Linked DNA regions of Homo sapiens. The protein of the gene in region 1 interacts with the protein of each later gene in a pairwise test. Each region holds a gene or a part of one and is shown in the gene's direction. Other genes may lie near its edges.

The links. Proteins that work in one complex are often made in the same cells at the same time.
Region 2: the proteins of CYP27C1 (region 1) and MTNR1A interact in a two-hybrid assay, tested with the Homo sapiens proteins (one large-scale study listed by BioGRID and IntAct).

Annotation. Positions count from the first base shown.
Region 1 is NC_000002.12:127,201,923-127,207,842, reverse strand, and holds part of CYP27C1 (cytochrome P450 27C1), read left to right. Parts: intron 1-1,752; coding exon 1,753-1,943; intron 1,944-2,075; exon of another isoform or gene 2,076-2,184; intron 2,185-4,271; coding exon 4,272-4,471; intron 4,472-5,920.
Region 2 is NC_000004.12:186,547,859-186,552,567, reverse strand, and holds part of MTNR1A (melatonin receptor type 1A), read left to right. Parts: intron 1-4,709.

The DNA of each region.
Region 1 (5,920 bases):
CCATTTATTTCATGTCTTGCCATTTATTTCAGGCTTCTTTAAACAATGTTTTGTAGATTTCTTTAAACAATGTTTTGTAGATTTCTTTAGACAATGTTTTATAGTTTTCAGAGTATAGGTTTTACACTTCTCCTGTTAAATTTATTTCTAAGAATATTATTATTTTTTTTTTTGTGACAGAGTCTTGCTCTGTCACCCAGGCCTGAGTGTGGTGGTACAATCTTCACTCACTGCAACCTCCACCTCCTGAGCTCACGTGATCCTCCCACCTCAGCCTCCTGAGTAGCTGGGACTACAGGCTCACACTGCCATGCCTCGCTAATTTTTGTATATATATGTATTTTTTGAGATAGAATTTCACTCTTGTTGCCCAGGGTGGAGTGCAATGGCGCAGTCTTGCGGCTCACTGCAACCTCTGCCTCCTGGGTTCAAGCGATTCTACTGCCTCAGCCTCCGAGTAGCTGGGATTACAGGTGCACACCACCATGCCTGGATAATTTTTGTGTTTTTAGTAGAAATGGGGTTTCACCATGTTGGCTAGGCTGGTCTCAAACTCTTGAACCCAGGTGATCCCCTCGCCTTGGCCTCCCAAAGTGCAGAGAGTACAGGCATGAGCCTTTGCACCCAGCCATGTATTTTTTTTAGAGACAGAATTTTGCCATGTTGCCCAACCTTATCTTGAACTCCTGTGCTCTAGCGATCCACCCACCTAAGCCTCCCAAAAGTGCTGGGATTACAGACAGGCATGAGCCACTGCAGCTGGTCAAGTATTGTATTCTTTTTGATGTATTGTAAATTGAATTGTTTTTTAAATTTCATTTTGGATTGTTCACTGCTAGTGTATAGAAATACAATTGATTTTTGTATACTGATTTTGTGTCCTATTGAACTTGTTTATTAGTTCTAATAGTTTTTTAGTAGGTTCCGTAGGATTTTCTGTATGTGAGATCACGTCATCTGCCAATAGAGATAGCCTGACTTCTTCATTTCCAATCCAGATGTCTTTTCCTTCATTTTCTTGCTGGGAGTCAGTTTTAGAGGCTCGTTACAGACTGTCCACAGAGGGCTTGCTCTGCAGAGTTGGCTTGGTACTGCTTGGGTAGAGCTGTTGGGCCCATGGAAAGGGGCTGGCAGACAGGGCTCTGTTTGCTCTGGACATTTGTCTCTTATAATGACATTTCTCTCTTGTTGCTTCACACAGCTAAGGTAGTTTTAAAAACATATCCCTAAAGAATAAGAAAACTTCCATGATCATGCCTGTAATCCCAGCACTTTGGGAGGCTGAGGCAGGAGGATCACTTGAGGCCAAGAGTTCGAGACCAGCCTGGCAACATTGAGAGACCCCTGTTTCTACAAAAAATAAAAAATTAGCTGGGAGTGGAGGTGTGCACCTGCAGTCCTAGCTACTTGGGAGGCTGAGGTGGGAGGATTGCCTGGGCCCAGGAGTTGGAGGCTGCGGTGAGCTATGTTTATGCCACTGCACTCCAGCCTGGGCAACAGAGCAAGACCCTGTCTCTAAAAAACAAACAAACAAACAAACAAACAAACAAACGGAAACAACAAAAAAGAGATGGTTATGTGAAAACATGTTTATCTCAGCAATATGTAAATTACTGCTCTGATTCAGTGCTGTGTTAGATAGCACTTCCCTCTGCCCCAATTTTCTGCTCCTCTAGCACACAGGATGTTTATGTTAAAGGTATATCATATCTATGTATTTTTTCCTTTTTTGATTTCTCCATGGTATTGCAGCAGAAGCACACACGGGAATATGGAAAAATCTTCAAGTCTCACTTTGGTCCTCAGTTTGTAGTATCTATTGCAGACCGCGATATGGTGGCTCAGGTGCTCCGGGCGGAGGGCGCTGCGCCCCAGAGAGCCAACATGGAGTCCTGGCGGGAGTACCGAGACTTGCGGGGGAGAGCCACCGGGCTCATCTCGGCGTGAGTATGTGGGCCCGGGCTGAGCCACGGGCTGGAGGGGGAGCTCAGGGGGAGGCCCCCTCCTCCAAAGCTGAGTTCCTAAAAGCCAGCTCTTAAAAAAGCACAGAACCCCCCCATGGAATGATATCAGACAGTCTCCTTGTGCGATCTCCCAGACATGAGAGCCCTGCTGGGCTTTCTGGCTCCTCCTCCGTGCAGAGTTGTCCCGTCAGGAGCCAGGAGGGGCGACGCTGGCTCCGTGGTGGGCAGAGCGCTTCGGAAGCAGGGCTTTGTGGCTTTGGGAGTCCATTCAGTGATAACCGAGGCAGACAAAACTCACAGCGCCCTTGTCTGTGCACAGGGAAAGGAGGTGGTCACTATTTCAGGAAAATCCCTTTGACGAGGGGCTAAGAACCTCCAGCCTTGGTCGCCACGTGGTGATTTTCCTGTCTCATAGCAGACTGTGATTATTCATTTTGAACCAGCGTCACCAACACCTCTGTGCCTTCCAAGAGATCGTGGCCCGCGGCCAGGCAGGGAGGCCCAGGGCGCCTGCAGATGCCCCGGTCCAAATCCCCATGGGGTGGGACTTCTGTTTGCAGCTCTTTTGATATCTATGTCCTTATACATAAATTGGGGAGAAATACAGCCACCAATTTCTCAAGTAAGATAAATAAGAATCGTGACCAGATGTCACCAGGGTCCCTCAATTTCCGTCCTGGGGGAAATAATTAAACAGCTCCTCCTGGATGTTCAGGCCTAGAGGGGCCCGAATGCTGAGGCAGAATCTCTCTGCTGTCTGCCCCGTTAGCTGCAGGCTCAGGAGCCTGTGTGGGTGCCTGGACCCCTCTTCGGCTGAGATGGAGAGAGGCGGTGCTGGTGACTTCAGCACAGTGGACAGCAAAGGGAAGGGCAGTGCCTAGGCCCAGGCGCCGGGCTGGCTTAGCTTGGGTCCTCCAAAGTCCATCTGGAGGCAAGGCTTTGAGTGCAGGTGGTCTCCTTGAGAACGCGAAAGTGGAGCAGGGTTGGGAGGCAAGCCATGCGGAGGTGTGGAGGTGTGGGTGACGCTCGTGGGCACTTGAGGCTCAGTCCTGCCACGACCCTCTGAGAAACTGCAGAACACTCCTCAGACCTCCAAGGGGTTCCCTCAGCGTCCTGCCTTCACTGGGAGCGGTGTGCTGGGCCTGCTACCTGGGTGCTCTCCGAGTGCAGCCAGGAGCCCCAAGGCCCCACACCCTGGTAACAAGCTGCAGTCCCTCTTTCTTTCCCACACCCTGGTAACAAGCTGCAGTCTTCTTTCTTTCTTTCTTTCTTTCTTTCTTTCTTTCTTTCTTTCTTTCTTTCTTTCTTTCTTTCTTTCTTTCTCTCTCTCTCTCTCTCTCTCTTTCTTTCTTTCTTTCTTTCCTTCTTTCTTTCCTTCCTTCCTTCCTTCCTTTCTTTCTTTCTTTCTTTCTTTCTTTCTTTCTTTCTTTCTTTCTTTTTCTTTCTTTCCTTTCTCTCTTTCTTTTCTTTCTTTCTCTCTCTCTTTCTTTTCTTTCTTTCTCTCTCTCTTTCCTTCCTCCCTCCCCCCTCCCTCCTCCCTCCCTCCCTCCCTCCCTCCTTCCTTCCTTCCTTCCTTTTCTCTCTCTCTCTCTCTCTTTCTTTCTTTTTTTTTTGAGATGGAGTTTCGCTCTGTCGCCTAGGCTGGAGTGCAATGGCGTGATCTTGGCTCACCATGACCTCTGCCTCCCGGGTTCAAGTGATTCTCCTGCCTCAGCCTCCCGAGTAGCTGGAATTACAGGTGCCCACCACCACACCCGGCTAAATTTTTCTATTTTTGGTAGAGATGGGGTTTCACCATGTTGGCCAGGCTGGTCTTGAATTCCTGACTTCAGGTGATCCACCCATCTTGGCCTCCTAAAGTGCTGGGATTACAGGCATGAGCCACCATGCCTGGCCCTCTTTTTCTTTTTTAATATCAGTACTTACTTCATTTATATATACATATGTATGCATATATATATATATTTTTCTTTTGCTAATTAGCAATCTCATTTCTTTATTACAATATTATTTCAAGATTTTTTAAAGGAAGTCGTATTACTTTTACTAAAGATTATTACTTACCACTGGTAGTTTTTTCCTTAAAGTTTGCTTCAAAGGCAAGAGTGTAAGAAGCTCTAACAGGCTCCAGGGCTGCAGTTATTAACTTCTCTCTCCCCAGCAAAAAGTCTTTCCTGTCTTAATTCTACTTTGTTGGGCAGCTCTTGTTGATTCTTTATGGCTGAAATTTTTTCTAGAGGTTCCTTGAATTCTTTCCCAGAATGTCAGTGTAAGTAAGATGATTTGAAACTCACTTGATTCTTCTAGGGAGGGTGAACAGTGGCTCAAGATGAGAAGCGTATTGAGACAAAGAATTCTGAAACCGAAAGATGTGGCCATTTATTCTGGAGAAGTCAACCAAGTTATTGCTGACTTAATTAAAAGAATCTACCTCCTCAGGAGCCAGGCAGAAGATGGAGAAACCGTGACCAATGTCAATGATCTTTTCTTCAAATATTCAATGGAAGGTGAGGTGGAATCAGCAGGTGGGAAGGAGGGAAGAATGGATACTTGCCCCAAACCTGCAGATGTCATCTTGGATCATTCCCTGGGTCCCAGGCAGTGTGCTAAGTCTGGGACATACATGCATGTCACCTCCACGGTGCTAACGTGAACCTGGTGTGAACCACCGTTGACCAATGAGGAAACTGAGACTTTTTTTTTTTTTTTCTGAGATGAAGTCTTGCTCTGTCACCCAGGCTGGAGTGCTATGATGTGGTCTTGGCTCGCTGCAACCTCTGCCTCCCAGGTTCAAGCGATTCTCCTGCCTCAGCCTCCCGAGTAGCTGGGATTACAGGCACCTGCCACCACTCCCGGCTAATTTTTTGTATTTTTAGTAGAGACAGTGTTTCACCATGTTGGCAAGGCTGGTCTCGAACTCCTGACCTCGTGATTCGCCCGCCTTGGCCTCCCAAAGTGCTGGGATTACAGGCATGAGCCACTGCACCTGGCTGAAACTGGACTTAAAAAAGAACTTGCCCAATGCCACACCCCCATCCCTCTTTTTAGAGGCAGAAAGTTAGTTTCAAATTCAGGTCTTTTAAACTCAAGAAGCCATGTTCCTAATTACTAATTTACATGTTCAAAAAAAAAAAACATTTTGTTTGAGCATAATTTTTAAAAAGGAGTGAAGTTGAGAGGGCATCTACTTCAAACTCATTCTAGCTTTTAGTCATATTGAATGAGTGGTACATTCCTGTTCAAATAGCAATACCAAAAAGGCTTCAGTGAAGGTCTCCCTCTTTCCTGAATGCAGCAAAGGTCACTAGTCTCTCATGTATATGTCAAGAGATGTTTTATGCACATACAGAAAAACGCATGTGAATATTCTTTTTATTTTTAAACAATAAAGGGTAGTACACCAAACATACTGTTCTGCACCGTGCTTTCTCTTTACTTAAGAATGCATCTTGGGGCTGGGTGCGGTGGCTCACGCCTGTAATCCCAGCACTTTGGGAGGCCGAGGCGGGTGGATCACCTGAGGTCAGGAGTTTGAGACCAGTCTGGCCAACATGGTGAAACCCTGTCTCTACTAAAAATACAACAATTAACTGGGCCATGGTGGCGGGCACCTGTAATCCCAGAGACTTGGGAGGCTGAGGCAGGAGAATCGCTTGAACTAGAGAGGCGGAGGTTGCAGTGAGCCAAGACCACACAATTGTACTCCAGCATGGGTGACAAGAGTGAAACTCCATCTCAAAAAAAAAAAAAGCATGTTGGTCTAACATGGTGATGTTTGTGTAAAAAAAAAAAAATAGAATGCATCTTGGAGGACTTTCTATCAGCTTTCTCATCTTTTTTAAAAAAAGCTTACCTTCAACTTTCACTCAAGTTAGCTTTGCAGAGTTCTGATGTTAATTTTCTCTAAAATTAGTAACAAAATCATCCCAGAAGTGATTGGTAAATACAGTTCACAG
Region 2 (4,709 bases), on another chromosome or scaffold:
ACACCTAACAAGGGCGTGCTCTGTTTGCTGGAAATCATTGCACTATAGACCTATGATTCGTGCATTTTTCTATATGTACATTATACTTAAATAAAACTTATTTTACAAAATATCAGGCAAGAATACAATACTATCTTGCCTATTCAAAATTCAATTATCTGGCAATCTAACTGAGGTAGAGTACAGCCAATAAATGGAAATTAGCAAAAATGACAGGCTCTCACCTACAGCGGATTTGTTCTAACTTAGAGTGCCACAAAACTGTGATACTGGTGTCTAGGTCCCTGTAGATTATGAGCAGGAAATTAGGAGGAAGATTGACACATTTAAAGAAATAGCACATAATAGCAAGCAGTATGGGTTGAAATAGACTCATTAAATGCAGATCTGAGAAACAGAACAAGCACAACCTTTTGTGCTTACATTGTGAAGATGTGAACAGCCCTGCTCACCATTCACGGCTCCTGAAAGCAGCACAGTGCAGCAACATATGTATTATCATCACCTGATTCATCAGCGAGAGATGTCATCATGAGTGGTGTGTTCTACTTAAGAAGACAGGGATATGATACATTTTAGAAAGATACCTGTCAAAAGCAGTTTATTATTATTATTATTTAATCTGTGTGCACAGTAGGGTAAACTTGTCAGTATATGTTTTTAAAAATGGTTTCCCAGAATGGCTCTATGGCTGGATGGCTGACTCTGTGTGAAGCCTCTCTTGCACTTGTTGCTTTCAGGTCTCTATAGAATGTTATATTTATTCATTCTGCATTACCACTCAGAGAGGATGCATAGAGTACGGAGTGAATGTGGACTTTGGGCCTCAGAGATCTGGTTCAAGTCTCGGATGTACCACGGCTGTTTAAGATGCCACTTTTCTTACAGGGATACTAGAAGGATAAACTTAGATTCTGCCTATCAGTCCACTTACCTACCCATCCACCCACCTATACGTCCAACCACCCATTCATCCATCCAGCCACCCATCGTCCGTCCATCCATCCATCTATCCATCCATCCACCTACCTACCCACCTATCTATCATTATGAGGTACAAATAATAGTATTATGATGTTAATGCTAGTACGCATCTGGTGATTAGTTCTTTTTAGATTGTTTTTATTTTTTAAGTGTATGTTTAAAAAAAAAAACAAGTAGACAATATGAACTGGAAAACAGTGAAATCAACCAGAAATGGAAGGTTTAGAATCTAATTCCCATTTGTGACATTATGCAAAATACACAAAATCTCCATTGTCTGAGTTTTCCCTTTTGTAACAACCATTATCTCTCTGCAGCAAGAAGGCCTGAGATTTAAAGACTGATTATTTCGATATTCAGCTGTTCTCTAATTTTAAGTGAATCAGCTCTAGAAGCTACAGTAGCTTCCTTGGGCAAGCAGGCTACCATTCAAAAACCTACGACGTAACTTGTACTGTACAGACTTGGAAAATGATTTCAAGCTAACCCCACTTCATGCGATCTCCAAGCCGAGAGGTTTCTTGTTGGCGCTGCTGTAGTTTCCCTCCTGTTGCTTTCCACAATATTTGAAATTACTGATTCAAGGCAATTTTTTACTTTAGAGACATTTTATTGATTTTTCCCCCTTGTATTCTTAGCTGTTGTTCAGTTTTCTATGACTTTCTATCTTGGTTTGTATAGTACATTGTTATGAACCCTAAGTTTTTACAAATATGTCAAAGTAATTCCCAGAATCCCCTGTAAATCTTATGACAGTAGTTTCAGACTCTCAAATACATGATTGAATTTGTCTGATCTTTCGTTCCTCCAGCTATTCATTTCGTAAGAAAGTATTTCTGGCAGGAATTTTCAGTGTTAAATTAATCACAGATAAGATAGAGCTTACTTTTGCTTGCCTTCAGCATCATTTTTCTCTTGGCAATTTTGGGAGTTAACCTAGGATAAAATAGTCCTAGATTAGACCTCCTTCTATTAATATTTACTGCCATTTGATGGTTCTGTTTTAAAAAGCATCTACACTGAAAACTATCATGCCTTGGAAGTCACTTTAAATCTCCACAGAGTCTTTGGAGCTCATTCTGCCCATTCTTCCTTAGCACCTTTTAAAAATAATCAACAGAATAACTGAAATGAATGGTAAGATCTTTACAAGGTGCCTTAAGCTTTCCCTTTTTTCTACATATTTGTAAGTTGCCTCGCTGACAGAAATACCCTTTCTTCTAAAAAGGAAACTCACATACTCCTTTAGAGTTTTCTAGTACCAAAAAGGCAATTAGTGGATTGTTGTTAAAGAAGCGTTTTTATGAATGCACAGAACTCTGCACGGTATCATTGGTGCCATCTCTGCCTCTTCATGAAGATGATCAGCAGCCTCACTTCTGCCCCTCTCAAATAATCAAGGTGACCAGGAACCTGAGCGCTGTATGTGATATCTCTGTGATTTTTAGTGCAGTTAAATAATGCTGCAGATAAGAAATAAACTGCTGGATTCTCTGGATGAAGTACTCAAACACTTGTCTTTCTACAGAGCTGTATACACTTTCGGCAATGCCATTGAAGGAATCAGTCTCAGAAGAAGAGACGGGAGAGAAAATGCATTTGCACGGTGCTGAATATTATTTAAGTTAATGGAGGTGAATTTGAGTTGTTAGGGTGCACGGTTTAAAAGCGTGCTCACTTGCTTTGATACTGAGTAGTTTTGGTGCTTATTGAGCTGAACATTTACCTGGATAAATACTTACTGCATTCCTAGAGTATAAGGCAGAATGTAAATGGTTGGTAAATTTTTGCAGGTTTGTCAAAATTCAAGGTCCTGTTCTAAGCGTGGGTCAAACGCGGCTCCGACTTTCAAAGAGATTACTTTCTATCGAGGCACTTTAGAAATGTGTGTTCTTCTTATTTTCAAACAAAGAGAAGACTTGGGGTACAAAAGTATGAAAATAGGAGCATATTTATACAGCAGAAAACTTTTTCAAGAGAAATGCGAAAGTTGGCTGGTAGATGGTAGCTGGAGCTTAAAGCAATCATGAGAATTTTTTAAAGTTGTTATCTTACGAGGAGAGAACAATGTAATAACTGGGAGATGTGAAAACTAGTTCACATGTGAAATAGCAGCAGATTGAGACGGAATTAGTGAGAGAATTTCAAAGAAACTGATCAGTGGTAGAGACACGGCATAACTATTAGTGAAGAACACACTGGCTTCAGGTCTTTCGAAGAAACGCCTGCTGGAGAACTAGCCTGCTAACTTACATTTATACTTGTTTTCTCAAATAGTTATTAAGTGGTGGATTATAAAAATGTGTAATCAGTAATTAGTATTTCCTCTTTGATGATTTTCTGAACATATTTAGGAATATGTTCTTGGAAGGGATATTGTGCTTTCATCCTTCCTGCATTCATTCCCTCCTCCTTTATTTAAATGCTTGCTGGATGCCTCCTATATCCATCTATAGGAGCTTAGGACACGATTTTGTTTCAAGAGAAAATTCTGGTTCACTCATTTTTATTTTAAGATGTGGTTTAAATTGCAATTTTTACTTTTAAGATTTTTTGCCAGTTAGTTTTCATTCCATTTTTTCCTTTTATTATTTACTTATCTTTTTTAGCTCCTTTCGTTGTTCCCTCTGAATTTGGAATACTTCCAACTGTTCTCATTTGTGTATATGTCTGTGTAGGTATCATATAGTCTTTTACCATGTACTTTTTTTAAAAGATTGTTTTACATATATAGTGTATATATATATATATATATATATATATATATATATATCTTTATAGATTAAGCATTCCTTATCTATGGAAGATTAGTGCTATTATAGGTCATTTTTTTTGGGATGTGTCCCTCTGAAACACATGGCCTCTGGAACCAGATGCCTGGAGTAAAACCCGGGCTTTGCCATCTCATGCGTGTGACATAGGGCAAGTGACCTAATTTGCTCAGTTTCCTCACTTGTTAATTTGGGACAATACTAATATTGTAAGGACTAAATGGCTTGCTGTATACTTAAAGTGCATTATGAATTAAATATAACATTCCCAGCAGCAGAATAAATTCCTTTTGTTAGTTAGTATTCTTGGTGTAGAGTTCTGATGTGTAAACATATTTTTATTTTTAAGGCAGAATGCAATATTTCACACTTACAGGTCTTTAAATACTCTGTAAGTACATAAAAATAGAGTCAAAGTTTTAACTTTTAAAAAGTTACTTTTATGAGAATATTATTTTATACTTTTGTAGTGTTAACATATTTTCCTGTCATTGATTTAACTTTCATATATAAATAGGGTTCTATTATGATTATACCATTTTTAATAAAACTCTCTTTTGGATTTAGCAATTTAGAGTTATTATTTAGTGCAGTTAATCTGTTTATTTAAGATGGGGTTTTCACTGAGTCCTTCAAGGTTCGGAAAAGTGCCTAAGGGAAAAAAGACTCCTACCCTAAAGAGAGTTCATATAGTTTTTTTTTGATTGCCTGTTAATGTCGCTGAAGGATTATGATTTTGTTTTTGTTAAAGTTTCATCCTAAATTCTCTAAGACGAATAAAGGTACAGTATCAGTAATTCGTCTTCCATTTAAGGGTGAAAGGCTGAACCAGTCAGGCTGTACTGTGGATGTTTTACAAGTTACAAATGCCTCACTAAACCACCCTTCTCAGAAGACAGTCACTGGGCATAGAAAATGAGCAGGATTATTTGCAGGATGTTACACCTTTAACAC